Linked DNA regions of Homo sapiens. The protein of the gene in region 3 purifies or fractionates together with the protein of the main gene of each other region. This does not show direct contact. Each region holds a gene or a part of one and is shown on either strand. Other genes may lie near its edges. The genes, in order: MAP2, HPCA, DGUOK and NTM.

Evidence for each region.
Region 1: the proteins of DGUOK (region 3) and MAP2 purify together in Homo sapiens (affinity purification with mass spectrometry; 3 studies listed by BioGRID and IntAct, with this or other methods). This does not show direct contact.
Region 2: the proteins of DGUOK (region 3) and HPCA purify together in Homo sapiens (affinity purification with mass spectrometry; 3 studies listed by BioGRID and IntAct, with this or other methods). This does not show direct contact.
Region 4: the proteins of DGUOK (region 3) and NTM purify together in Homo sapiens (affinity purification with mass spectrometry; 3 studies listed by BioGRID and IntAct, with this or other methods). This does not show direct contact.

Annotation. Positions count from the first base shown.
Region 1 is NC_000002.12:209,693,045-209,700,071, reverse strand, and holds part of MAP2 (microtubule-associated protein 2), read right to left. Parts: coding exon 3,722-7,027; intron 3,531-3,721; coding exon 3,324-3,530; intron 3,156-3,323; coding exon 3,021-3,155; intron 1-3,020. UniProt on the Homo sapiens protein: The exact function of MAP2 is unknown but MAPs may stabilize the microtubules against depolymerization. They also seem to have a stiffening effect on microtubules.
Region 2 is NC_000001.11:32,882,526-32,889,504, forward strand, and holds the start of HPCA (neuron-specific calcium-binding protein hippocalcin), read left to right. Parts: upstream 1-3,965; 5' UTR 3,966-3,990; intron 3,991-4,972; exon of another isoform or gene 4,973-5,038; intron 5,039-6,352; 5' UTR 6,353-6,373; coding exon 6,374-6,751; intron 6,752-6,979. UniProt on the Homo sapiens protein: Calcium-binding protein that may play a role in the regulation of voltage-dependent calcium channels. May also play a role in cyclic-nucleotide-mediated signaling through the regulation of adenylate and guanylate cyclases.
Region 3 is NC_000002.12:73,936,878-73,943,904, forward strand, and holds part of DGUOK (deoxyguanosine kinase, mitochondrial isoform a precursor), read left to right. Parts: intron 1-2,032; coding exon 2,033-2,145; intron 2,146-7,027.
Region 4 is NC_000011.10:132,304,615-132,311,641, reverse strand, and holds part of NTM (neurotrimin isoform 9 precursor), read right to left. Parts: intron 5,348-7,027; exon of another isoform or gene 5,174-5,347; intron 3,954-5,173; coding exon 3,819-3,953; intron 1,531-3,818; coding exon 1,410-1,530; intron 1-1,409.

The DNA.
Region 1 (7,027 bases), about 140 Mb from region 3:
AATATAACCCATTGTCTACCAAAGTGCAGGTAAGCACACCACGTAATTTTTCTATTGATTACCAATGTATCTTTGAATCACTAGTACGTAAGGAGATCCTTTAGAACAGAAGTTACAGAATAGCAATGTGAATGTTGCAAAATTTAAGAAAAAGAACACTGATTGGTTTCTGGGGTTCACATGATATATAGAAGAGGGTTCATAGAGATTTCCAAACCCTCTTCTTGTTCTGGAAGCCACTGGCATAACCATAGATATTTCGGTATTTTACATTTCAAACTGTCATGATCAGCTAACCCCTTTCCCTTTGTATCCCTTCATTTCACAATATGAATGACATACTTGTTTGATGTGAAAATGCCACATGAGAAGGGAAGAAAAATAGCTTGTCAAGAACAGAAAACACGAGAGAAAATTTAAGTTCAGTAAATACAGAACATGTTCTACACATGCACTTCCTGTATGAAATTATTACCACATCTGTTACTGTTGTTTCTCTTGCTGCTGTTTTATGCTTCTGGATTCAATTTTAAACTCCATTATCTCTAGCACATTTTGGTTGATGACTTACCTGAGGTAGCTTAGCTCTCATGATTTAAAACAATCCCTTGTGGTTTGGAAAACCATCTATGTTTGAAAATTGGGCTTAGAAGATAAAATAATCAAGCTTGTGTGTTTATTCCTCCTTAATTTTCATTCATAAAATAGAAACCCTCAGAAAAAAAATGTATCCTTATAAGCCCTCTGAATAAGTTCTAAAAAGGTATTTTTATGACAGGTACAGTTCTGACACAAACATAATAACTGTCTACAATATGCTTTATGCCATGTAGGACTAGCTAGTGAGATTTTTCAGATTCTAGGACTCATTGTTTTTAAGGAAGCAGTGAAAACGATGCCTTACTACTATCTCTGTAATATAACTCAAATTCTTGTGACATGTATAGCTTGCTTCAAACCAATGACACCTACATCTGATACATGCTTTCTCCTAAAGTATCTTAACATTAGACCAGAATAAAGGAAAATCTTCATTAGTTCAAAGATTTTAAATTTCTTTCAAAGAATGAATAAAAACACAATTTACTTTAAATGTGGCAAATTGAATACCAATGACATGTAAACACTTTACTAAACCATTTTACGTTTTCTCTAAAATTCCACAATCCTGATGACATCTTTCATCCTTTTAGGTAGGTTATAGAGTTTTTATGCTAAATCAAGAGATTCTGCTTGCCCAAGCAATTTTGCTACTAAGTTTAATGAAGCTATTAATTTGCTATTAAGTTTAATGAAGTTCTAAGTTTAATGAAGCTAAAAACCTGAGAAAATGAATTGAGGTATGTCACGTTAATTCCTAACTCCTAGCTTCAGATATATTCTTCATCCTGAAGCTTTATCAAGGTGTGCGTATATACAAGCCTTCTATTTTCAAATCCTGCCTTAGATTCTTGTTTTTGAAGGAAAGCACATGATATGATTTCTAGATGAAGAACACAAATACAAAATACTTGGAATTTTCAATGGCTAAAATAAAACCATCAGTTACCTTGATTTTCTCTTTCTCACAAAGGCTAATGTTCCTCTTAACCTTTAAAACCATCCGAAGATTTATATAGAGGCATTGATGATGTACAATGGAAAGAAAAACATTCTTTTCTGATTTAGCAATCTGTCATTTTGTAGACTACAAGCATGCCACTTAATAAATGCTAAAATAAAATATAGTGTAAGGTAAGATTATCCTAGTATAATTAAACATATAAAATAAATACTTTGCCCTGAAATTTAGAAAAAAGTTGGCATTACAGATATTTGTAGGGGTTTTTATGATGGTTTCCAACAAGTTTCATTCCTTTGTTTTACCAGTTTTATAAACTTAGGAAAAAATATGTATTTGAAGAAGAGTAATAAGTAGATAGCAGGCCGGGTGCAGTGGCTCATGCCTGTAATCCCAGCACTTTGGGAGGCTGAGGCAGGTGGATCACGAGGTCAGGAGTTCAAAACCAGCCTGGCCAAGATGGTGAAACCCCGTCTCTACTAAAAATACAAAAAAAAAAAAAATTAGCTGGGTGCACGCCTGTAATCCCAGCTACTCCGGAGGCTGAGGCAGAAGAACTGCTTGAACCCAGGAGGTGGAGGTTTCAGTGAGCCGAGGTCGTGCCACTGCACTCCAGCCTGGGCGACAGAGCGAGATTCCGTCTTGGGAAACAAAAAAAAAGTAGACAGCAAAGTAAAAATAAACCGAAGTTTATTTCTAACTGAAGTTCCTCCTAAAAGGAAGAGTTTTAGCTTCAAATTTGTGAAACTAAATTATATAGAAAAGTCGAGCAGTTTGGATCCAACATATTTAAGAAATCTCCATGACAAAATGTCAGCTAAGAGATGTAGTTCAGTAGAGTGAAAATCTTGTTAATTTTGGATATGAGGAATAAAATCTGATATAATTACCAGAAAATTTTGTTTTCTATCTTCTTTTTTTCAGCAAAAGCAAAGTAATAGTAATTTTGCAAACCACAATTTCACTTCCTGGCTTGCTTTTCATTTTCAGTATCTAAATCACTACACATTCTTGGTGGTTTTCAATAAATTCATCAACATCAGTAACAGATTTGGCAGTAACAATGTAGAAAATAGGACAAATATTTATGGGTTTAAGCATGAGAGAGATAAATAAGCAAAATAATGAGAATGCATACCACAGTTAAATTCATCGCCATCGTCTAACCAAACACACAGAATGAAAATAGGAATCCCCAGAACGTGACACTAGAGCACAATGCCAAGATACAATCACGCACTGTTATGTCTGAGCATGACAAAGAAACAGATGGTCATGACCTTTTCTGTAAGGAGGGGGGAAAAAAGAATAATGATACAAGACACTTAATAGCAAAATTGTTCATGACTGCTGAGATTCTTGGAAGAAAAACAAAATGAAGAAGCTGCTACAGTAATGAGATTTAAAAAAAAAATACATGTCTATGTTTGCCAGTCACATTGCAGAATTGAACAGTCACCTGTGGTTTTCCGCTTAACACAGGAGAGATGAGTTGGTCTAGTATATTTGATAGCAGGTTTTAAAATGAATTTCCTGGAGGGAGAGTGGGCCTGAACTTCTGTTTTTTTAGCAAGTTCAGCCTTCTTATAAACTGCTATGAATAAGAAAACACAAAAAGCATACCATCAGGAAAAAATAAACACGTGGAGCAAAACCGAACGAAATTTTATAAATAATTAGTTACCACTGTTAGGCAGTTCTGCAAAAAAGTAATAATGAATTACTTCAAAAACATTTTTAAAGAAGTGATTGTTAAATGAACCTTTTTTCCTTCTCACTTCATCTCTGGAGACTGTGCTAGGTTCCTTTTTAGCTACTTTTCTTTCAGGAGTGGAAATTCTGCCTCTCCCGGTTTTAAAAGGCTTTTCTTTTCTATGTTTCTCAAGAGATGATCTCCGAGCTTCCTTTTCAGCTTTCTCCTCTTTAGGAATAGTTTCTAACTGTTCTGTCATGATGCTCCTATCATCATCTGTGGATCAAAGCAAATCATGACAACAACAACAACAGTGAAAACATTAGTAACAAGTGTACAAAATCCTTTGTATATTTAACAAAATACAAAATAAAGAGATAAAGAGGTATTTTAAAATGTTTAAGTGAAAAAAAATTCCCATAAGGTTATTGTGTTTGAGTTAAAATAATAATAATAATAATGCACACCTTGAGTGTCCACCCAGAGGCTGTCAGCGTCCATGATGGAGTCGTCAATGGTGGTCTCATCTTTGTAATCGTCATAGGTTTCTGTCTTATATTCAGAAAGTGCAACCTCTTCTCTCTCAGGGGAAGCTGGAGCCTCTGGGGAACCATCTTTGGGTTCTGCCTGGGCTTCAGCTGCCTCTTCTACTTCAAACTCTTCTTCATCATGAGGAGATGGTCTCCTTTCCACCTCAGGCTGCTCTAGGGCTGCAAAACGCACGCTGTGGGACCCTGACTCCCCTTCATCAGTTGTGGTTTGCACTACAGTGATGAAATCATCCTCGATGGTCACAACAGACTCAATCACTCCTTTGTGTTCACTTGGGCAGGTCTCCACAAATTCCTCCCTGGCACCTGAGACACCCAGGTCAGTTATCTGAAGGGTGTCTGAGCGGAAGAGCAGTTTATCATATTCTCCCTGGGCTTCTATCTCTTCTTCCTCACTCTGAATCTCTGCTGGTTCAGATACGATCGTTTCATGCAATGGCTCTGCAACATCAGAAGGCGTGATGGATATATCTGGGGTCTCTTTGCTTTCTTCTTTTGGCCCCTGAATAAATTCCATCTGGACATCAGCTCTCTCATCTGTGGCTAAATCAGCCTCTGAAACAGCAGGTGGGCAAGGTATTTCCACTGACAATTTGACGGCAATCTCATCTTGAATTAGAGATGATTCTGGAGATGTTTCCTTCTTGCCCTCATCAGCTTTCAAGGACTCCATGGTGAGACTTTCATGCTCACCACTAGATTCATAGGACTCCTCCTTGTCTACAGCCTCCTGGTGCACCAAGTCAGGCTTGGCCACCTTCTCTTTGACTTCTGTCTCACTAACTTTAGTGCCTTCTTTCATGTGGCCAGACTCAACACCCATAAATGCATCTGCCTCCTGCGGTGCTTTGGATGAGGGGGTCATGTCCTGTGTAGCCTCAAGTTTTAGCTCTGTTGCCCTTCTATCATCTATGTTTAGCCCTGAAGCCATCTGTCCAAAGTCACTAATTTTAACATCTAGTTGACCCTGGACAGCAAAATCCAGACCTTGTTCCACCTTTTTGGATGGTTCTACCTCAGCTATCTCTGGCACTGAACTAAGACCCTTCTCTGCTTTCTCAGAGGATGCATCTGTTGGTATTGACAAATCTTTGGCCAAAGCTTGCTCATAGGTTACTCCTAATCCGAATGTTTCTATTTCATCACCAGCCTCTTCAGTTTTCTTGGCATGTTCTTTTGAATCAGCATGTTCTTCACTCTTTTCTAGTACAGTATCCAACCTATCATTAGCTTTCTTCTCTTGGTCAAACTCCTTACTCAGTCCTGATTTGTCACCAGAGATATGCGCGGATGCTTCTTTGTCAACACTGAACTCATCTTTGACTCTTCCGGCTGCTGCCAGTTTCACTTCAATCAGTGAAAGGTCTGTGGCCAAATCTCTTCGAACTTTATCATCAGTGCCTTCGTAAAAGGTACCACTCTCCCCTGATAAATTCTCACTGTCTTGAACAGGTGATGGCAATGGGACTGTGTACTTATTGAACACACAGTAGCCCAGGTCTTCGAGCTGACTGTCCGTTTTTACAATGACATGGTTTTCATCAGTTACCGGGGGCAAGCCAGTACGACTATCCTCAACCACAGTCTCTGATGGGACTGATTTCCTCCTGGCAACCTCAGCATCTGCACTCACAGAAGCCAATCTTGACCTTGTGCCTGCCAGATCTAGCATTTCAGGAAGGTCAGGTGCCATGACAGTACCATTTTTGTAAAAATCTTTGGCTAGGAAAGGAGACTCACATGATATCTCCGCTTGAGTACTTTCTTCTCCAGTAGCTTTTACTTTCTCTATCTGTTCTTCCTCTTTGCTTTCTACAGGGAAGCAAGGGGCTTTCTCCAGTGCAGGTGTGGTGGCTGGAAGGTAATCATCCCCTTCATCCATACTTCCACTAGTGTTGGTTAGAATATCGGAAGCCAGAGGAGAAAGATCATGTCCCCGACCAAAGTTAAATCCAAGGGCTATGGAATCTAGGCAAGACATCGGCAAATTGATTGACATGCTTCTTTGTTCTATTGCAGACCTACCACCAAGTCCTAAACTCCTGCTAAGGGTCAAATCATCCTTATTCTTACTGTGGAGGTCCCTTTTCTCTCCATACACTTTTGGATCAATAGTGAACATTCTTTCTTGAGGAGAACTGGGTTCTTCAGGTAAATCTGATGGATAACTCTGTGCGAGAGTGCTGTACCCTGCTTCTTGTGCTGGAGGACTGGGCTGGGATTCTTTTCCTGTTTGAAACTCCTTGTCACCATTTTTATGCATGGGAGACATGGTATCAATAGACTCATGGACACTTTCTCTAGTGTCACTCAGTTCATAGTAATCACTGCCTGGCTCAATGCTTTTTGTTGCTTCTTCTTTCAAGGCAGATGTTTCAAAGTACTTGGACATTCCTGATTTATCTTCATAAAATGGCATATCAAGCTCAGCTGATGTTGCAGCTCCAACTCCTTCAATCTTATCTTTGTCATCAACTCTCATTTCAAAAAGTTCCTGAATTGAGCTCTTTTCAATTAATGCAGATGGTTCGGTCATGGCTTTCTCCAGTGTTTTAGAGGTCATGGCTGAATCTGTAACTGCTTGCTCCAAACTTACAGGGAACGAGTCCTGTTTCAACATATCTGTGGTAGGCTCTTGGTCTTTCTGTTCTGAGAAAGTGTGCTCTGTGGAGGTCTGAATTATGCCTATTTCTTCATCTGCAGGTTTTGGGGGTTTACTCTCTTTTGGCACAGCTTCTTTGTCAGAAATGGTGGTTTTTTCTTCAAGCTTCAGCTCAGTTTCCTTTTCAGTAAGTATAGGTTCCTGTCCACTGGGGGTGAAAGTATCCCTTTGCTGCACAGTCTCTTGATTTATGGCCTCCTTTTCTTCCTCTAAAACTTTCCCCATAACATGTTCTTCTACAACTGGAATGTGAGCATCTTTGGGTAAGGTCATTGCCTCTGAGGGTGGTGCTTCTGCCATTTTGTCAGGTTTAGCCTCATGGGGCTCTTCAATTTTAAAACTATCTTTGGCAGTAGCTGGGCCACTGGTTTGTTGCAGAGATTTTTTGTCATCTGGCTGTAAAAAGGCAGGGGCAAAGGGCGATGTTTCTGTAACTATTTCATTCTTCATGACATCTAAAGGAAGAGTGAAGCTTCCCCCTTGAAAGGGACTTGGCATGGGAGAATCAAACTGTTTCCCTTCCCATTTTGGGATATCATCAAATACATCTTTTTCCCTCA
Region 2 (6,979 bases), on a different chromosome or scaffold from region 3:
GGGTATTCGGAGACCCCCAGGCCCCCACCTCAGAGCCCGCTGTGCTCTAGGCTGGGGTGGGCAGGGCCTTTTGGAAAGGGGTGGCTTGGGGTTTTAATCACTTTTTCAATGTTTGTTTGTGTAATTCAGCCCCGAAATGCTTTTCCCTCCATCTGTCCCACCATCTGCTCCTGTCAGGATTTTCCAAACCGTTTGGGACCAAAGAGGCAACAAGGTGGGGGATGGGGGGTAGGGGATGGGGGTAGGGTGGCTGGGCCTCTGAGGGGGCTGGGGAGGGGCCACCTTCACCCACTTCATTGAGAGGTTTCCAGAGAGGGCCTGGGCTCCTGAGTCACACAGAACTGGGTTCAATTTTTTCTTTTTTTAGAGACAGGGTCTTGCTTTGTTGCCCAGGCTGGAGTGCAGTGGCGCAATCATAGCTCAAATTCCTCAAAATTCCTGGGCTCAAGCAATTCTCCCACCTCAGCCTCCCAAGTAGCTTAGACTACAGGCGCCTGCCACCATGCCCAACTAATTTTTGCTTTTTTTTTGAGACGGAGTCTCACTCTGTTGCCCAGGCTGGAGTGCAGTGGCGCAATCTCGGCTCACTGCAAGCTCTGCCTTCCGGGTTCACGCCGTTCTCCTGCCTCAGCCTCCTGAGTAGCTGGGACTACAGGCGCCCACCACCATGCCCGGCTAATTTTTTTGTATTTTTAGTAGAGACGAGGTTTTACCATGTTAGCCAGGATGGTCTCGATCTCCTGACCTCGTGATCCAACCCCCTTGGCCTCCCAAAGTGCTGGGATTACCGGTGTGAACCATCGCGCCTGGCCAATTTTTGCATTTTTTTGTAGAGACGGGGTCTCACTTCGTTGCCCAGGCTGAACTTGAACTCCTGGCCTTCAGTGATCCTCCCTCCTCAGCCTCCCAAAGTGCTGGGGGTATGGATGTGAACCGCCACACTTGGCCAGAACTGGGTTCAAATTCTGACACTGTTGCTTTCTTGCTGTGTTACCTCAGACAGGTGACTTTACTTCTCTGAGCCCCAGTTTTCCTATCTGTAAAATGGCAGTTAACATTATTGATTCCTCAGAATCATTGAAGATCCAGTGAGGTGACGTGTGCAGAGAACTCTATACACTATAGGTGCTTGAGATATCACGTCTCTCTCTCTCTGGCATCCCAGGAGCAGTTCTGTCCCTCCCTTGGTAGTGCTAGAGGAGGGTAGTCGGCCCTGATTTATGTGCCCTCTCCTGCCTCCTCAGATGCTGGGGACTTCCCCTCCCCTGGAACTTGCTCGCCCTTCCATGGACCCTGCCACTGCCTGGCTCTCTCAATTACCTGCCTCTGCTTCTACCCCACCCCTGCCTCTCCCTCCTTCTGGGTGCCTCAGTCTGAGGTGGGAGGGACTAAGTATCACCAGCAAGGACACAGCCCCACACACAAGAGGCTTCCAGGGTCAGGAGGCCTCATTCATTCATGCTTACATCACCTGTCTGAACTCTCTGCTCAGAAAGGGGAAGAGACTTGCTCTGGGTTGTCCAGATCGAGGGACCCAGGCCCGCTGCCCAGCTGCCCCTCAGCCCCCCTTTTCATGGCCATATCTTAGAGCACTAGGGCTTGGACCAAAGGCCGTGTTGTGCAGTGTGGGGAGCCCTGAACCTTCTTTGGCTGTTGGGGGGTGGGCTTGCAATGCTTCTTAGTCCCTCTGAAAGGTGCAGGTGGCTGATGGGAAGTAGCAGCAGAACCCACTAGGGCCCACACTCTGCCTCCAGAACCACCTACACAGTCTAGGTGCAGGGAAAGACAAAGGCAGGAGGGGCTCATGGGGATGCGAGACATGGCCTTGCCTTCCAAAACCCCTATCTACTGGGGAGACAGAACACAGACTGGGGGTCCGAAGGCAGGGCACCAGAGTCACCCTCAAAGAAGAAAGGTGGTTGGTGGTGGGGGTGGGGAGAAGTCAGCCCCTGAGGGGGTGAGCCTGCAGGAGGCTGAACTGGGGAAGTGGGGAGAAGGCAAAGAGGGAGCTGAGCAGCCCAAGATGGGGATAAACTGAGTCCCCCAAGGATAAAGAGGAGGATCCAGACCACTCAGGAGAGAGAGGAAGGGGTGATGGGGGAGGGGGCTGAGGAGGTGAGGGAGGGTGGGACCGTCTCCCCGACCCCAGCACAGCTGGCCCCCCAGGCCTGGTGGGGAAATGGGAGGGAGCTTGCCACTGGAGGGCCCTGGGGTGGGGGCTGAGCAGCGAGTCTCTCCCAGCCCCCAGGTCCTCACGCAGGAGGCAGCTGGGAACCACCCACGCTCATCTGGTGTCTCTCACGCCTCCACTGGGGGTCCCAACATCAGAGCCAAGGCACACAGTGAAGCCGGTGTTCCGGAGAGCCCAGCTGTCCCCACCCCACCCCGGCTCCTCAGTTCCTCCAGCCGAGACCTCCCCACCTGCCTCCAAGCAGGAGGGACTAAGGCTAGACTCTGAGGACTTGAGAGGCTCAGTCTGGGAGCCTGGAGGCGGAGCCCTGGGGTGCCAGGAGGGGCTGAGCTGCCGATGCTGAAGAAACTCTGGGCTGGGAAGGGCCCTCTGGGCAGATGGCAAATGCTGCCGGCTTTACCTGCGAAGTAAATCCAGAAACCAGACCCACCCCGGCCATCTCTCAGCCTGAAATGGCCCCTTCTCCCACCTTGCCCCCAACTCCTCAAAGTCTCTTCTTGACATAATAACCCAAGGAAGCTGTCCACATGGAGGTCACACCCTCTCACTCTGCTCAAAGCCCCCCAGGACTTCCCATCTCATCTGGAATAAAAAGCCTAAAGTCATTGTCATAGGCCCCAAGGCCCTGGATGGCCCCAATGGCAGTTACCATTCTAACTGCCACACCCAAATCCCAACGTTTAAAAACACATGTCTAATATCGACATGTATATTGTGTCCATTGTTTATTGTCTGCGCCTGTAGTCCCACTATCTAGACAGAACAATGCTGGCCGCAGAACTAGTGTTTTATATGTATTTGTGGAATGAATGGATGAGGGCGCACACACTGGAAAAATCACTTAACCCCTTTGAGCCCATTTCTTCATGGGGACAATAAGGACCAACCCCTAGAAATGGAAAAAGGACAAAATCTCAGCCCAGCATGCGGAGAATGTTGCTGAGGCTGGGGGCAGGAGGAGCTGGGCTAGGGGTCATCGACTCTGGAGAGGAGCTGTGCGGTCGGCAGGCAGTGGGTAGGTGCCACAGGATCCCCAGGCAGATGTTCTGCCCTCCTGTCATGGCCTGCACAATCAGAGGCTGGGGAGGGAGGAAGGGAGGGGGTTTCCTTGATTGGAAGGGGGAGTGGGAGGAGCAGCTGACACCAAAGTTGGGAGGTGGGATTAATTCTGAGAGGGGGGTCGGGGTGAGGTCTGGAGTGGTGGGTTTGACATGGGGGCCGGCTCGCCAAGGTGGAGGTGGGGAAGGGGGCGTGTCTGGTCCCCTACCCCGAAGACCTCAGTAGCTGGAGGAATGGGCGCTCCACGCTCCCAGCTCCGTTAGTTGGGAGTTGAGGCGCAGGAGCAGGGAGGGTGCCCAGGGTGCCAATTCGGCCCTCGAAGCGACGTGCGGCTCAGAGCCCAGGTGGGTATGGGGAAGGAAGCGGGGCGGAGTGGCCTGGGATCGCCCCCGGCTCAGGAGAGAGACCTCTTGGCACTACCGTGTCCCTCCATTCCGGCCACCAGAGCCGAGGTGCCGAGGAGAGGGGCGCCGCGATCCTCCTCCCCGGGCAGGGTGCTCCCTCGAGGGGGACCGGGGAACTGAGGGCGTCCCCTTCTCTCCGGGGCGGGGGTGGGGGGCGGAGCCCAGCGCGCCGCTCCCCAGCCCCCAGGGCTGGCGGGGACCCCCCCAGGGGAGGGGCTCCGGGTGAGCGCTGCGGGGCGTCTCCCTCGCAGTCCCGCCCGCCCCTCCTGCCGCCCCTGCCGCGCGCGCCGCAGCAGCGCCGCCTTCCCTGCGCAGTCGGTGTCTCCGCGTCGCTGGGTGAGTGGGGGCAGCTCCAGCCGGGGCCGGGGGATGAGGGCAGGGGGTTCCCGGAGCTGGGGGCCCACGTCCAGGGCTTCCCAACACCGCCGCTCCCGGGCTTCCCGGGAATCCTTGCCCCGGGTGGCGGGGGCGCTGGGGACTGGGAAGCGCGCGGTGCTCTCCAGGGTCCTGACCGCCGAGTGGCCGGCCCCTAGGAACCGCGTTCGACCGCCCTGGAGCGCCCCCTCCAGGAGGGGCCACGCGCCGGGCGCTGTCCTAGTGCTGAGCGGATGGAGGCGGGGGCTGGGGGACAGAGCTGAGGGAGGTTTGGAGCGGGTCCCCGGGGCTGGCTTCTCAGGTCGAGCTGAGGGGGTTCTTCCCATATGGGGGACTGGAGGTCTTTGCGGGCAGCTGAATCTTCTTGCAACCGGGAGGGGCAACTCCGAGGGTGGCAGGGCCCAGGGGGCACTGGAGGAGCTCTCTTGCTCCGCGCATCTCTCTGCCCCCACCCCGGTGACCCAGTTCCTTGGACCTTGAGGAGGGCAGTGCGGGACATGCCCCAGCCCTTCTCATTTCCTTAGCCCTTTCCCACTCACTTGTCCGGTGGGTCCTTAGCCTGGGCCATAAGAGGCTGGTCTAGAAAGGAGGGGCACCAACTTACAGAAACATGCATGTGACACACCGCCGAGGACACACACGGGTCCTCCAAATGGCCACACGGGCTCATTCCCTCACGCTGTGACGGGTGCATACCTGATCACATGCACATCTGAGGCACATGCAGGGACATAGATGGAAAGACACGGCAGGCAAATGCAATGCAAAAACCAGCGGCACACATCATGCATGAGCACATGCACTCACAACACACCCATTCACATGTGTGCAGAGCTTCATGCACATGTATGCACAAGGAGGCCCCTCCTTGCCCTAAGTGGGTGGGGGTCACCTGCACACACGCCTACATCCTTGTGCAGAACTGGCTGGCTGTTTCCTCTTCATTGCCTTCTACTCAGCCTCCACAATCTAACCTGCACTCAGGGGACCTTTCAGGACTAGATGAAGGGTAAGTGTTGGGGAGGCTTGGATGGGCTTGGTGGGGGGTCTCCTTGGAAAAGGGGCCCCGAGCAGGTCTGGGAAGGTTTGCAGCTCCCTCTCCTGGGACCTGGCAGCACCCCTGGGAAAACAGAAGGAAAACAAAGAAAAATGGCAAGGGTGCCTGAAGGTCCCACGTGCAGCTGGCCATGTGAGAGGTGTCGGCATGCGAGTTGGCGTGTGATGGCATGTGTGAGACATGTGGGGTCGTGGGCTGGTGTGTCTTGATGCACAGGGTATGGGAGTTGTGCGTGGTGCCATGTGTCGATTCGTGTGAGTTGTGGAGCAGAGGGAATGTCGTCATGTGTGGAGGCATGCTGACCCATGGGTGGGCGTGGGCTGGTACGTGAGTGGCATGGGATCCAGGGTGTGGATCTGGTGAGCTATGAAGCATACAGTTATCGGTATACATTCATTTGCACAGTTTTTGCATGAGTTTTGTGGCACCTGGGTATATGTAAGTCATTTTTATTTATTTAACATTTATGTAGCACTTATCTATGCAGCCATGGTTCTAAGTGCTTCACACATATTAACTAATTTAATCCCCAAAACAATCCTCTTAGGTAAGTACTGTTATTACCCCACTTTAAAGATAAGGCAGAGAGAGTTTAAGGAACTTGCCCAAGGTCACATAGCTGGTAAGAGGAGGAGCTGGGATTCAAACCTAGGTGATCTGACTCTGGAGCCCACAGTAACACCTCCCTCTGCTGCCTCTTGTTGGGCACACCTGTCAGAGGGAGAACAGGGCAGTGTCTGGGCTGCGGGTATATTCAGTGCTGAGCAGGCACATGTGAGGCAATGAGAAGGCAGTGGGTAGGACGGAGGAGGATCAGAAGGTTTTTCTGCACCTCTGTGGGCAACTCTAGGAGTCAGCCTCATAATGCCATGGCTGTGTGACCTGAAGCAGCCACCTCACGTCTGTAAGCCTGCCTTCTCATCTGTAAAATGGGGCAAATCCCCATACAACCTGTTGCGAAAGTGAATTGGTGTGCATTTGTGAAGGCTTAGTGGCTGGCACCTAGAAGGGCCTCAGTAAATGTGAACCACCCTTCCCTTCCTCCCTCTCCCAGGAAAGCGTATGGTCCAGGGAGATGGTGTGGAGCATGGCATAGATACAGGATGCCTGGGTCTAGGCTGTGTGACCTTGGGCCAGTTCCTCTCTTTCACTGGGCCAAACAAGAGGCAGGGATGGCTGTTGGCAGGGGGGCCCATCTGGAGCAGTGTCTAGTAGCCAGGAGGGCCTGATCACTCCTCTCTGCCCTTGACCCCCTTGGGGACCCAGGTGGGACTTGGCTCGGCGGCCATGGGCAAGCAGAACAGCAAGCTGCGGCCCGAGATGTTGCAGGACCTGCGAGAGAACACAGAGTTCTCAGAGCTGGAGCTGCAGGAGTGGTACAAGGGCTTCCTCAAGGACTGCCCCACAGGAATCCTCAATGTGGATGAGTTCAAGAAGATCTACGCCAACTTCTTTCCCTATGGTGACGCCTCCAAGTTTGCCGAGCACGTCTTCCGCACCTTTGACACCAACAGCGATGGCACCATAGACTTTCGGGAGTTCATCATTGCGCTGAGCGTGACCTCGCGCGGCCGCCTGGAGCAGAAGCTCATGTGGGCCTTCAGCATGTATGACCTGGACGGCAACGGCTACATCAGCCGGGAGGAGATGCTGGAGATCGTGCAGGTGGGCCCCTGGGCCCCTCAGAATGCCAGGCACAGGGCCCGGCAGCTTGCACCCACCACCCCTTTTGATCCTCTCAGCAGACCTCGTAGGCATGTGGTGGCAGGGGATATTCTTGCAATCCCATTTTAAAAATTGTTTTTAGGAAATATTTCCCATTTAAAGAAAAGTTGAGAAAACTCCCCTATACCCTCTACCCAGATTCACCAATTAACATTTTCCCACAGTTGC
Region 3 (7,027 bases):
TAGCTAATCCAGCTTAGAGGTGTCAGGATCTGGAAAGGCTTCACACAGGAGGTTCATCTAAACAGAACCTTGAGGATTGAGTAAGAGTTGGTCAGGTGAGGAGAGGAGGCGCTTCAGGAAATGGGAAAGCATATGCAAAGTCATATTTGCAAGAGAACATGGCATGATTGGAGTTTGGTCCTGCAGGAGGGTAGGCTACCTAAAGGAAAGCCAAGGCCAGAGAGGCATACACAGGGATCAGATCTTCTTGTGTCTTGCAGACCATGTTAAAGAGTTTGGAGTTTGTCATGAAGCTTGTTCAGGTCTTAGCTCAGATGTCACTAACTTCCCATTGCACTTAGAATAGAATTCAGACCTCTTACCATGGCCACAAGGCCCTATGTGATCTGGCCCCGGACTGCCCATGTGGCCACACCCATCTTGAGCCACTCCTCCATTGCTTGCCCTTGCTATAGCCAGTTAGCCGATAGAGAGCTGTCAAAAGATTGTAAGCAGTGTTATTTCATATTCAGTCTGGCCACAGTATGGAGCATGGATTGAAGAGAGCAAGGCCAGCATCAGAAAGGCAAGAGATGATAAGAGGCTGGTCTTGAGCATGGAGGTGGGAATGGAGAGAAAAGGACAAATATGAAAAATGTAGAAGCAAATGCAGAAGGATTTGGTGGCCACTGAGGTTTGGCAGAGGAGGGACTTCTGTCAGTGAGTGGATGGTGTGTTCATACCCTGAGGTCTGGGATACAGGAGGAAGCTCAATTTGGTGGGAAAGATGATTAGTTCATTTAGGAAATATGTTGACTTTGAGGTGTTTGTGGAATGTCCCAAGTGGAGATGTCTGGAGAGTTCTTGAATAGTCTCTGGAGCTCATGGAGGTATGGGCCAAACATTGGTATAAATGGGAAAAGATAACTTGAATGTTGTGGTACTAGGTTGATTTCATCTCCAAAATATTTCTCGAAACAACCACTACTTTTCACTCCTCTGCCATCACCTCGGGGCAAGCTGCTATATCTTTTAACTAGTCTGCCTGCTTCTGCTTCAGCCCATTCTTACACAGCTAGTGGAGTGATCTTCTAAAAATGAGAAGGAGTCTTATAATTTTCCTACTTAAAACCAATCTTCACTAACTTCCCATTGCCCTTAGAATAGAATTCAGTCTTCTTACCATAACTACAAAGCCCTGTATGACCTGGCCCTGGACTCCCTGTCTGGCCACACCCATGTTGAGCCACTTCTCCATCACTTGCTCATGCTGTAGCCATACTGTATGGCTTCTTCTAGGGCCTCAAACTTCTGTATTGTTGTGTGTCAAGTTCTTTCTCTCTTTCAGGTCTTTGCATATGCTACTCCCTTTGCATGAATTGTCATCTTTTAGGTCTTACCTCAGATGTCATTTTTTCAAGGGAGTCTCCTCTGACCTCCTGGGCTATATTAGTGCCATCCTGCATTTTTTCCTAGCACCTAACACAATATGTTAGTAGTTAATTGTGCGTTTGTATCACCCATACAAGCTCTGTGACGACAAAATCCATTCTGTGTTTTGTTTACCATTGTACCCACAGTTCCTGACAGTCCTGAGCTCATAGTCAGCACTCCATGAATATTTTTTAGATTTGTTGAATGAATGAGATTATAATCATTTTTATTTTTTGTCTTGAAAAACTTAGAAATTTTACACTGTCACAGTACAAATAGAATGGTGACTCAAGTGATAGAACTTATGGAGCTGATTTCATCTACTTTTACATTTTCAACTGTTATTAAATGCTCTGCCTCTGGAAGGTTGAGACATGGAAATTGCAAATTAAATCTTAAAAGGAATTTTTCCTCCCTATTGGCTGTATTCATTATGGTGGTTCTGGTTAGCATGAATTGATCTGTTATCAGTCTGACAATGGTACGGCTGCTGAGTTTGAAATTCAGAAAACTAATACTTGTTCCCTTGAGTTTGGGCGTTTGTGGCAGAGTTTAGTAGCAGCCTTCTCCTTCAGCCCTGATTTGGGAAGCATCCCAATACATGCTATTTGCATTGCAGCTGTGGGAAAGTCCACGTTTGTGAAGTTACTCACGAAAACTTACCCAGAATGGCACGTAGCTACAGAACCTGTAGCAACATGGCAGAATATCCAGGCTGCTGGCACCCAAAAAGTAAGTTTTTAGTTGTGGTGGGTAGTTGGCAGGCATGGGTGAATAATCTAATTGTCATAATTTAATTTACTCTCAGTGAGTAAAGTAGCCCAGTTTGAGTATCCTTTTTAAAATAGCTTCATTCCAGAAAGCAGACCACATACACCAGAGAGGATATGACTTGTTTGAATATGTGCAGTTTTGATTTTTGTGGTTTTTATATGTCTATCTAAGTGACTGCCTCTGTTGTTTGTGGTTTCCCAAAGCATGTCCAACCATCATGGATGGCTTTGAAGATGAATTTTGTCATTCCTACACTTAAGTATTTATATTATTACTTAAGCTAACCACTAGGATTAATAGCTAATTATAGTGATTTTAACTTTTTAAATAAAGTCTTAGAAATTAGAAGGGATATTAGAGAGGTTCCAGTCACACTTTGAGTCAATGGGAGAGGTTACAGCTAACATTTATGAGCATGTACTATGTGCCAGGCACTGTACTATGCCAAGCACAGTACATTTCACTTACACCTCATGGCTTAGGCCCTGGTGTCAAGACTATGGCTTTGGCAGAGGCCATAGAGTTGGTTTCCAGCCACATCAGTCTGAGTAAGGAAAGACTTGTTTCGACATGACCCTTAGAGGGAGCAGAAGCACCATGCCTCCTCAGGCACCATGAACTGCTCCTGCCGCCACCTGGGATATTCACTGAGTGGCACATTCTGGTTCTTAACTCTAATTACTAAACAGTTCTGCCTTTTAATGAGCCATGTTGCACCCCTGTGACTCTGACTCATTGGTTCAAGTTCTACCTCTTAAGTCTTTTAACTTTTCGCCGTAACAACCCTATATATAGTTGAAGGTAATGATTTTCCTGTTCTTTCTCCCCCTCAAGTCTCTCTCCTTTTTTTTTTTTTTTTGACAGTCTCATTCTGTCACCCAGGCTGGGGTGCAATGGTGTGATCTCGGCCCACTGTAACCTCCAACTCCTGGGTTCAAGTGATTCTCATGCCTCAGCCTCCTGAGTAGCTGGGACTATGGGTGCATGCCACCATGCTGGGATACTTTTTGTATCTTTAGTAGAGACAGGGTTTCGCCATGTTGGCCAGGCTGGTCTCAAACTCCTGGGCTCAAGTGATCCACCCACCTTGGCCTCCAAAGTGCTGGGATTATAGGCATGAGCCACCATGCCTGGTCAAGTCTTCTCTCTTTCAAGCCAAACACCTCCAGTTTTCCTCCAGGCTATTCTTTACTCTGAAGTAACTTTACCTAAGTGATGAGTCCTAGTTTGTTCACTTTCCACTTTGAATTTACTAAGAGTGCTACTTGGAGGTGAACAGGACATTCTGGATGTAGTCTAAGTGGGACAGAGTATCATGGAACTTGTTCTGGGTGCCATTTTTTTTTATTCCAACCCAGAATTGTGTTACCTTTTGTGGCTGGCATATCATGCCTATTGAGGATTTTTGCTGCTTAAGTTGTCTCTTTATATGTCTGTATGTGTGCCTGTGTGTGTATTTGTGAAATTAACTTTCCTATGCAGGAATAAATTACATATCTTTTTCTGAGTATGCCACAGGTCACCTGTGTGTATTTCAAAATACAGTCATGGGCTGCATAATGATGTTTCTGTCAATGATAGACCTTGTATACAATGGTGGCCCCATAAGATTATAACAACATATTTTTACTGTACCTTTTCTATGTTTAGATACACAAATACTTACCATTGTGTTACAGTTGCCTACAGTATTCAATACAGTAGCATGCGATACAGCTTTGTAGCCTAGGAGCAATAGGGTGTGTCATATAGCATAGGTGTGTAGCAGGCTATCCCATCTAGGTTTGTGTGAGTACATTTTCTGATGGTCACACAGTGACAAAATTGTCTAACGACACATTTCTCAGAACATATTCCTGTTGTTAAGTGGTACATGATTGCATGTCCACAATTGTTTGATATTCCTCCCTTCTAGAAGTAGAGCGTAATTCTTGCCTTGAATGCAGCTGGACTTTGTGATTTGTTTCTAGTAAATAGAAAGTAGCAAAAATAAGAAATACCTTTCTAGGGTAGGTCATAAGAGACACTGTAGCTTCCATCTTGTTCTGGGGGAAGCCAGCTGCCATGTCAGGAAGCAGCCTTTTCAAGGGGGCCACACGGAAGGAACTGAGGCCTCCTGTGAACAGGTACGTGAGTCTTTTTGGAATTGGATCTTTCAGCCACAGTCCAGCCTTCATACAACTGTAGCCTCAGCCAACATCTTGACTGAAACTTCATGAGAAACCCTGAGGCCCAGCCACCCAGCTAAGCTCCTTCCCAAATTCCTTCCCCATAGAAACTGAGATAATGAATGTTTTTGTTTAAGCCACTGAATTCTGGCATAATTTGTTAGGCAGCAATAGATAACTAATCATCCTGTAATCCCATTATTCAGAAGTAAAATGGACATTTTTCTACAGAGAAAATGTATAGATTTACATATACTTACATAAATGTATAAAATATATATACATTTGCTTTTTGAAACAAAAATTTTGATTGCCACCTGTATGTCACTTAATAGACAAGATCTCCCTTTCACAGTGATATCATTTTAATGGTTGTAGTGTACTGCATAATATGAATATTATCATTTAGTTATCCAGTCCTCTATTTTGAATGTTTAGTTTTCTAATTTCTTCCTATTATAAGCAGTGTTGCAATGATGAATATCATTGTAGCTATACTGCTTGTTTTTTAATATAAAGCCATGTTTTGTGTATCTTTTTGTTCTTTAGTGAATTGCCTGTCCAAACCCCTTGCCTTGTTTTTTTCTATTGAGATCTTCATCTTTGTGTAATGGCTTCATAAAAACTCATTGTATGTTAAGTATATTAACTCTGTCATATATTTGTTTGTCATTTTCTTTTTTTTTTTTTTTTTGAAACGGGGTCTCGCCTTGTCGCCCAGGCTGGAGTCCAGTGGTGTGATCTTGGCTCAGTGCAACCTCTGCCTTCCGAGTTCAAGCAGTTCTCCCTGCCTCAGCCTCCTGAGTAGCTGGGATTACAGGTGCCTGCCACCACACCCAGCTAATTATTGAATATTTAGTAGAGATGGGGTTTCACCATGTTGGCCAGGCTGGTCTGGAACTCCTGACCTCAGGTAATCCACCTGAATTGGCCTCCCAAAGTGCTGAGATTACAGGCGTGAGCCACTGCGCCCGACCATGTCATTTTTCTTTTATCTTGGTATATAATATATTTTTACAATATAATACATTTCAGTTTTTATGTAGTCTAACCTGTCCTTCTTTTTCCTCATAGTTAGCACCTTTGATGTTAAAATTGTAGCCCAGGAGTATAAAAATAATCTATTTCTTTTTGTTGCTTTTATGGTTTTATGTTTTATGTGGCTTTACAAGTTATAAGACTTTAGTTTTTTCACAAATGGTTATCTACTTAGCCAGTAGTATTCTTGTTTATTCCTGAGCAGAATATATATTTTGTTTTTATTGTGACTGAGATCTTTTTTCCACATCATCTTCTGAAACTGGTTATTGCTGTTTTAATGGAAAACAGTTGATTGTTATATTTATCTTATATGATTTAATTTCTCATTATTTTTTTATTTGCTTGAAGTTTTGGAAAATAATAGTTGTCTCTAAATAGTAATCATTTGAAAGAGTTTTCTAATATCTGTGCCACATTTCTATTTTCTTGTTTTCTTTCATTGGGTAGAACTTCCAGAGCAATATAAACTAATAGCAGTGAGGGTAGTTTCCTTATCTTGTTCTGTCATTAATGAAACTGCCTCTAATATATCAGTGTTAAGTTTAATGTTTATTATTCATTTCAGTAGACCGTGTGGTACACGTACCCTTTTGTTACTAGAATAGTAACTGTTTTTATCATGATCAAATGTTGAATTTCCATCAAAAACCACTTTAGCATCTAGTGAGATAAACAAGGGGTTTTTCTTTTTAATCTCTTAGTATTAGTCATAGATTTAATAATGGTACCATCCTCACATTTCTAGAATGAACTTTTTTTTGGTCATGATGTACTATTCCATTAATTTGGTAATGTGTTGTTTGGAATTTTGCATGTATATTTATTTATACAGTTGGTTGGTATTATTATTTGTGTGTATGGTGATTTTTGTTTGTTTTGACTTTTGGGTTCTTTTTAGGCAGGGTCTTCCTCTGTCACCCAGGCTGGAGTGTAGTGGCATGATCATAGCTCACTGCAGCCTTGAAGTCCTGGACTCAGGTATCTTCCCACCTCAGTCTCTTGGTGAGTTGGGACTATAGGTGCATACCACTGTCCCCATCTACTTAAAAATTTTTTTTTTTTTTTTTTTGTAGAGATAGGGTCTCACTTTGCTGCCCAGGCTGGTCTCGAACTCCTGGGCTCAAGCGACCCTTCCACCTCGGACTCCCAAGGTGTTGGGACCACAGATGTGAGCTGTGATGCCTGGCCCATGTGTAGTTTGTGACAGGTTTTACCATCAATGTTATGAAAATAAATGGAGAAATTTTGCATCTTTTCTAGCATAGAAATGATCTATTCCTTGAAGGTATGATAGAAATCATCTTTAAGATTATATGGATTCAGTACTGTTTGAGGGGAATCATTATTGGACAACTGTTTTCTGCCTCAGTTATTCAGGTTTTTTTTTTTTTTTAAGATGGAGTTTTGCTCCTGTTGCCCAGGCCAGAGTGCAATGGCACGATCTCAGCTCATTGTAACCTCCGCCTCCCAGGTTCAAGCGATTCTCCTGCCTCAGCCTCCCAAGTAGTTGGGATTACAGGCATACCACCATGCCCGGCTAATTTTGTATTTTTAGTAGAGACAGGCTTTCACCATGTTGGCCAGACTGGTCTCGAATTCCTAACCTCAGGCGATTCACCCACTTTGGCCTC
Region 4 (7,027 bases), on a different chromosome or scaffold from region 3:
GGTTCAATAATTAATTTTTATGCCTCAGTTTACTTCTTAGTACAATAAGAAGGTCGAAGAGGAAACGCATAAGTGAAACAGAATTTCTAAGTAAGGAAACCATATTTATCAGAAAAACACGCTCCAGTCTGCTTGATTCTTCTTTCTTGGAAGAAGGGGAAAGCCAGCTCTATTTCTTCATGAGTTTGTTTTTCCCCTTTGTGTCTTAGTTCTTTCATCTGTAAAATGGGCTACATGAATATAATACATCTCACTAGAAGCTGCCAGAATGTGTCCTTAAAAATTTTTTTTTAAAAAAACAAAACACTGCTTTTCATTTGGGAGGATTATGATAAAACCCAGTGAATCTTAAAACTGATTGACGTGGTTCTAAACAAAATTCAATTTTCGATCTAGAGACTAGAAAGAGCTTTAGGTTTCTGACTGACCTCATAAGGAAACAAAGCCAAGGCTGGCTGAAGACGTGCACACAGCGTGGGCGGCCATTCACTTGCTCCTGGCCTGCAGTTTCTCATGCTGCTCTCCTTCTCAGAATGCCCTCTTCATTGTTTTTCCTTCTCAGCCTCCTGGCCTCCCCCACTCCTTGCTCTTACTCCACCCCACATACACCTCAGGACTCTCTAGCATCCCCTATACCACCACCTCTTTTTCAATGAAAATGTTCTGAACACAGGCAGCTCTTGCCCATTTCCCGTTGTTCATCCCCCTTAAAAATGGCTCTTTGATAACAGCAATTGCCATGGTGCCTGGCTGTACTGAGCTACTGATCCCTGCACTGATATGTCATTTGATAAAGCCTGGAAATGATCATCTTCAGTGACTCACAACAAATATCCCGAGGATGCTGTGACAATGGGAAGGAAGGGAATAGTCCCTTCTCTTTTCTCCTACAGTAAAAGAACAACTTGGGCACAAAGGGAGGGCTAAATTGGGTCATGGACTCTTATACACCGCTACTGATAGTGTCTGGAACAGGAGGGGAGACCTACTAGCTGCAGCTAACTTATTAGCCACTCCCAGGGCCCTGAGAGCCTTCCTAACTCCTTTACGCAAGCCTGAGAATGTGGTAAAAATAGCTTCAGGCAGAACACATTATGTTCTTGGCCTATAAAAAATTCACAGGCCTTACAATGCTCCTGGTGGCCTTTCCTTTGTGATTTTGCCTTCCTAAAAAAAGTTACCTTTCAGATCTGTTGGTTGGCCAGTGATAATTCTACATGGTGACATTAAAAACGTAGCTGAAATCCATTAATGTTAAGAAAAGACTTCTTTGCACATTTGCCCCCTATAGAGATAAGTTCAGAAGAGGATTTTATAGAACTCGTTTGCAACAATGTGGAATCAGGACCCTGGAAAAGTTTCTCCTGGAGATGGGGGTAGGGGTGGGATAGGAAAGAAGGAAGCTTTACCTTTTGTCATCCTTGTACCACTGGAATTCTGCTGAGGGGACTGCTGAGGCTTCACACTGCAGTGTCCCCTTTTGTCCCACGGGGACACCTGTACCCTTGGCTTCTGAAATGTATGGTGGATCTGCAAAAAGAAGATGTCTCATAGCCGCCCCCCCACCTTTTTTTTTTTTTTTTTTGAGATGGAGTCTTGCTCTTGTGGCTCAGGCTGGAATGCAGTGGCATGATCTTGGCTCACTGCACGTTCTGCCTCCCGGGTTCAAGCAATTCTCCTGCATCAGCTTCCCAAGTAATTGGGATTACAGGTGCACGGCACCATGCCTGCCTAATTTTTGTATTTTTAGCAGCGACGGGGTTTCACCATGTTGGCCAGGCTGGTCTCCAACTCCTGACCTCAGGTGATCTGCTCGCCTCAGCCTCCAAAAGGGCTGGGATTACAGGGCACTGCACCTGATCTACAGCATTTTAAAATGAAGAAGGCTGCTTCATTTGTTGATTTTGTTTCTCAGTCTCTGCCCTGGCTCTGCTTACTTAGAAGGTAAAACTGCTACATAAATTGTACCAGAGAATAAAAACCTTTTTGATGCCGCTCTAAGAAAAAGCTGGGTCTTCCTTTCATGTACTGCTTTTGTTCTCCTCTGTACAGAGTTGAAATGACCATGTACTCAAGCATTTTTTCTGTTTAAACTTTTTAACTTTCATAGGATGATGCCAGCCCATCAACCCTACACTCCACGGGTTGACAGTCAGCACCTTTAATCAGCCTTCTAGAATTTCTGCACACCAGGTTCTTGCCAAAAGTATATAACCTCGAACTATTCAATTCCCATCAAAAGCTCAGTTGCAAGAAATAATATTCAAGGAGAATTGCCTGAAGGATATACAGATCAGTCATTCTTGGTATTCTAAAACAGATCCCTGAATCAAACCAGAGCAAGTGACCAAGCTAGGCCTACGCACTTGGTTTGCATTCATTTGACGTCTTTACCAAACTACTCTTCACATTCTACCAGTTTATATTAAAGGGTATTATGAAAAACAGCCACAATAAACTGGCTATTCTATTTAATGCAGAAATATTGTACATGATGTTGCTGACTCTCTCCCAAAGTGCTCTATTTGTGGAGACCCTGAAGAGAATTTTCTCTAGGGTCTCAGTACCACGAAAAGCAGTGTTTCTCCCAAGCAACTAATTTGCTTTTATCTTATGGACAACATAAATCTTAAAGCAGGTGATGTTTCCCTCTTTGCTTTAGCAAGGCTGAGCCAAATTCTGCACCTGCACCTAGCAGTCTTGTGGTAATATTTCATGTGCTGAGGTTTTCCTAGCTTTCACTCATTTTCCTAAGCGTATTTTTTCTTTGCTTCTGTTTCTTTATGTTTTAAGTTCATCTTTATAAACTGTAAATCCTCTTAAGTCCCTTTGTAAAAACTTGTGATATGATTTTTAAAATGACAGCATTTTTATACCTATTGCCTTGCTTCTTAAACCGCTTCATATTGACTGGGTTCACATTGTAACACAAACCTAAATCTGAAAGACTGGATATTCTCCTAGATACAGTATCCTTCTCCTAACTCCACGCCACCCAAGTTTTGAAGGGAAGTCATCTCGTTTGCCGATTTAGTTATTGAGTTCTATTGCTTCGTAAGTCTTCCTGGAATGTGCACAGCAGAGAAAACCTCCAGAATGTTGTAGGGAGCTAAGGCAAGGTACATAATGAGGGACCCAGAGGGAAAAGAGTGAAAGGAGGTAGCAAATTCAAGTAGGATTGATGTCAGAGACAATCTGGAAGGCTGAGAAAGGAGAATGAGGGGTCCACACAGCACCTTCCAAACTTTTTGGATTCTGTATCTCTATTAGTAACAAGCAAATTTATTGTTACATCCTCTAAGATCTATATCGTAACTATTTGTATGTATACCATGCACATCTATAATTGTAAAATAATGAGATATAATAGACATACCATAAATGGAAGTTTGAAACTTCCTTCATACACTCTAGCACATGGTTTCTTGTCCCATTATGGAGATGTCTGGTCTAGACAGTGAGAGGCTCCAGCACAACTGTATTGTGTGAGTAAATTATGGGAAAATTTTGGATTTGAAGACGTGTTTAAAAAATTATGAGCTGAATGCCATTTAATGATCTGCCAGCCATGCAAGTCAAGTTTGGCATTATTTTCAGTTACTTTAGCTACTTTTTCTTTCAGCGTGACACTGTGACACCTTGAAGTGTCAAAAACTCGAGTTTGAAATGTTTGCTCCTGAAAGCAGAGTGTGGAAAGTGGTGCTGCATTCTTCCCACCCTAAGTCAGTAGCTGGCTGTGCCAATGGGCTCTGGGTGGTGGCTGTGACAACAGGCCAGCCTGATGCACGTGCAGGGCGCGTGGTGGTGAGAACACTTACAGTTCACGGTGACCTTTACTCTCCGTACCACGGGCGCGGCCACGTCATTGGAGGCACTGCACTCGTAGTCCCCTGACTGCTCCCTGGTGATGCCCTGAATTTCCAAGTATTCGTCTTCACTCACAAAGCCAACCGCTGCGGGAAAACCGGTAACGTGTGGTGAAATACAAGGAAAAAAAAGACCAAACATGTTCACTTAGAAAACAAAGTATAAAATGGTTATGTCTGCAGATAATTTGCCAGTTGTAAGTTCAGATTCTGAGGAACTGTGTGGGTTATCCCTCCTCCGTCTCTTCTACACCTCCGCACCACCAACTTTTCCTTGGCTCCCCAGTGGAACAGCTGAAATGTTTGTGTTCCTAACTGAACAAAGCACAGTGCCTAGAGAATTACTGGTCCCAATAAGTGATTAATAATTTTGACATTTACACTGCCTGTATCTTACCAAGCCGTCGTGCTCTGGGATCTGAGTCAGGCACCTTAACTCTTTCTGATCTCAAGGTATCACTTAGACTGAGCCTTGAATATAAAATTTATGACTGCACACTTGAGCATAAATTAATTGAAAATGCCACACCAGCAGCTACATACACATACACACACACACGTGCATCACAAAGGTAGCAGAAACACTAACATAAAAAATTTAATTTTCTGTTTTTTGACTCAGACAATTAATTGGATAGGCAGAAATCAACGTGCTAAACTTCGATCTGCTAGAGCTCCTAGGTACAAGATCCTAAAGACAGACCAGCAATGGGACTCCGCACTCGATGCCTAGTTGTAAGCATGTCAGAGATTCATCAGGCGACGTGGCTGCGAATCCACTCAGTCCCCTAATCATTGCGGGACTCATTGTCTTCAGTGAAAAATTATGAGTAATAATAACAACGCTTCACATACCAGACTCTGTGCCTGACGTCTGGCCATGAGCACTCAGTTATTGAAAGACCAAGATATTTAAGGCTAGAGGAGATTTCAAAGTTCTCTCCCAGAGGCACCTGAGCCTTCGCTTCCTTGCCAAAAGACAATGAAAAACAAAAGTTAGGGCTTACATCCCAAGCTATCCTCCCTTCTCTCTTAAATGAGGGTAATTAGAAAGACAGCATCCTAAACCTGGATACCTTTAAAAGGAAATGAGGTGCTAGTAATTAATGATTATTAGCAGACAACAGGCATAAGGCTGTCCCTAGCAATTGAGAAGCATTTTCCCAAACATAATATACATACAATCCTAATACCTCACAGGGTCACGGGGCTATTTAGACTAACACACAAACATGCCTACATATATATGTACACACTCACACACACACATGCACGAAAGCACTCCAAAACTCTCGTGTGCTGCCCACCTGTTGATTTAGTTATTACTCCTATAATCTGGTTGGAGGCACAGCTTCAGGGGGTGCAGCACTGTATTAACATGAGTGGCCCAAGAAAGGGAACAAAGGGACATTTCTCTCCAGGTGAGAAAACCCTTCCATAATGCCACGTGTTTCTGCTGGCCCAGAGCACGAAAACAGTAGCTGTAAAAAACCGATACAACAAGGGATGATGTGTGCGGTATGTAAGGGATGATTGTATGTGTTCCATAACAGTGTTGAAGTCACTGTTTTGTCAAGATAACCACAATAACAATAACAACAGCAACAACAACAAGACCATGGTCTTGTGAACAAGGGCCACTGCCTTGTTCCATTCGATCAGCACTCTTTGGCCATGATAAGTCTGTGCCACTGCCCAGCAGTAGGCCCAACCGGGGCCTCATCTCATACATCTTCATGCCATATGCAAACTACACTATGTATGTACAGACGGTTTCTTGCCTCTGTTACATACAGAAGAGGAAAAGAACAGCCTATGTCCATTACAACAAACAAGAAAGAGATACTAAATTCACAAGACAAAGAAGGAACCTCTTCATAAGTAGAAAACACAGCCAAAAAGACCAGGATGTGAAGAGGACAAACAACATTAACCCAAATAGACTCATAGTTCCTACCAGTAAGACACTTCTAATGGTCTCAGTAGCCTTTATGAATATTGTTTGATAAGCATCTTTAGGGGAAAGGTACTAACCTTGATTTGAGGATGGGTGGAAGAATTGAGAAGAGCTTTAAATGAAGAATCTGTAATTCCTCTTGTGTTGTCCTTGTTTATTTGCTACCAACCACGGGCTTACATTTGTCAGATCTTCCCCTGCCAGAATGCTATAATTACTGTGCCAAGCATCTCGGAGACCAGTGTCACACTTAATATTCCCATTAATTTTAAATGGTAGTCCTTGGTACATATGTGTGGCAATTGGTGTCATATTTTAATTAGGCTTGCCCTACACCATCTGAAATTAATAATAGCTCGAATTACCAGTGTAATTTATAAATTAACAGTGCCGCAGCATTAGGAAATAAATTAGCTCTGGACAGCTGTTTCTGGATTGAGCTCCAGGGTCGGAGCAGGGACTGATAGGACCTCAGGTCTCCTGTGAAGCTGTGTATTACATCACCAAAGCGGGGAAACAAACAAAAAGACAGAGGTTCTCTGGATCTCTTGTGCTCTCCAGCTAAAGTTCATGCATCTGTTTCAATTCCATAATTCAAATATGCTCTTTTGTGGCCACAGCGAGATTTGCAGGGGCCAACTTGTCATGGACATCCAAATGGAAAGGCCTGTTGGAGGCATGACAGTCCTGGACTGAAATGCAGTTACACAAATATTAAGGCAGTCAAAATCGAGAACTCATCAGTTTTCTGTGGGGACATGGGTGCCACATTAATTTATGTGTAGTTTTGTATATTTATGTCAGGTGATCTTGTGTAGGAAAGGACGTTGGGTGGCTCAAGTTTTGGGGAAGGCGTATGGTCTCTACTGATCCAAATTTCTAATTCCAGAGAAAGGAGATTTTTCCTCAAGTCATCCTGCAGGAACAGTGAGGCTTAATCCTACTTTCCTATGTTCCCTGGACCAAATGTGCAATCCCAGAGAAATCACAATGACTTCATTGCTCACCAGTTATTACATGTACACTTTTTGATTAAGTTGGGTAAGGCATGTAAAAAGTGACTTGTACATAGTAATATGCTTAATAAATTTAAGCTTTCATTGTCATTATGCTCACTTTTCTCCTCACCCACCTTTTTCTCTACTAGAGGCATATATGGCAAAACCAGAGAGAAAGTTGGTCAGTTTACACATAACAAAATAAA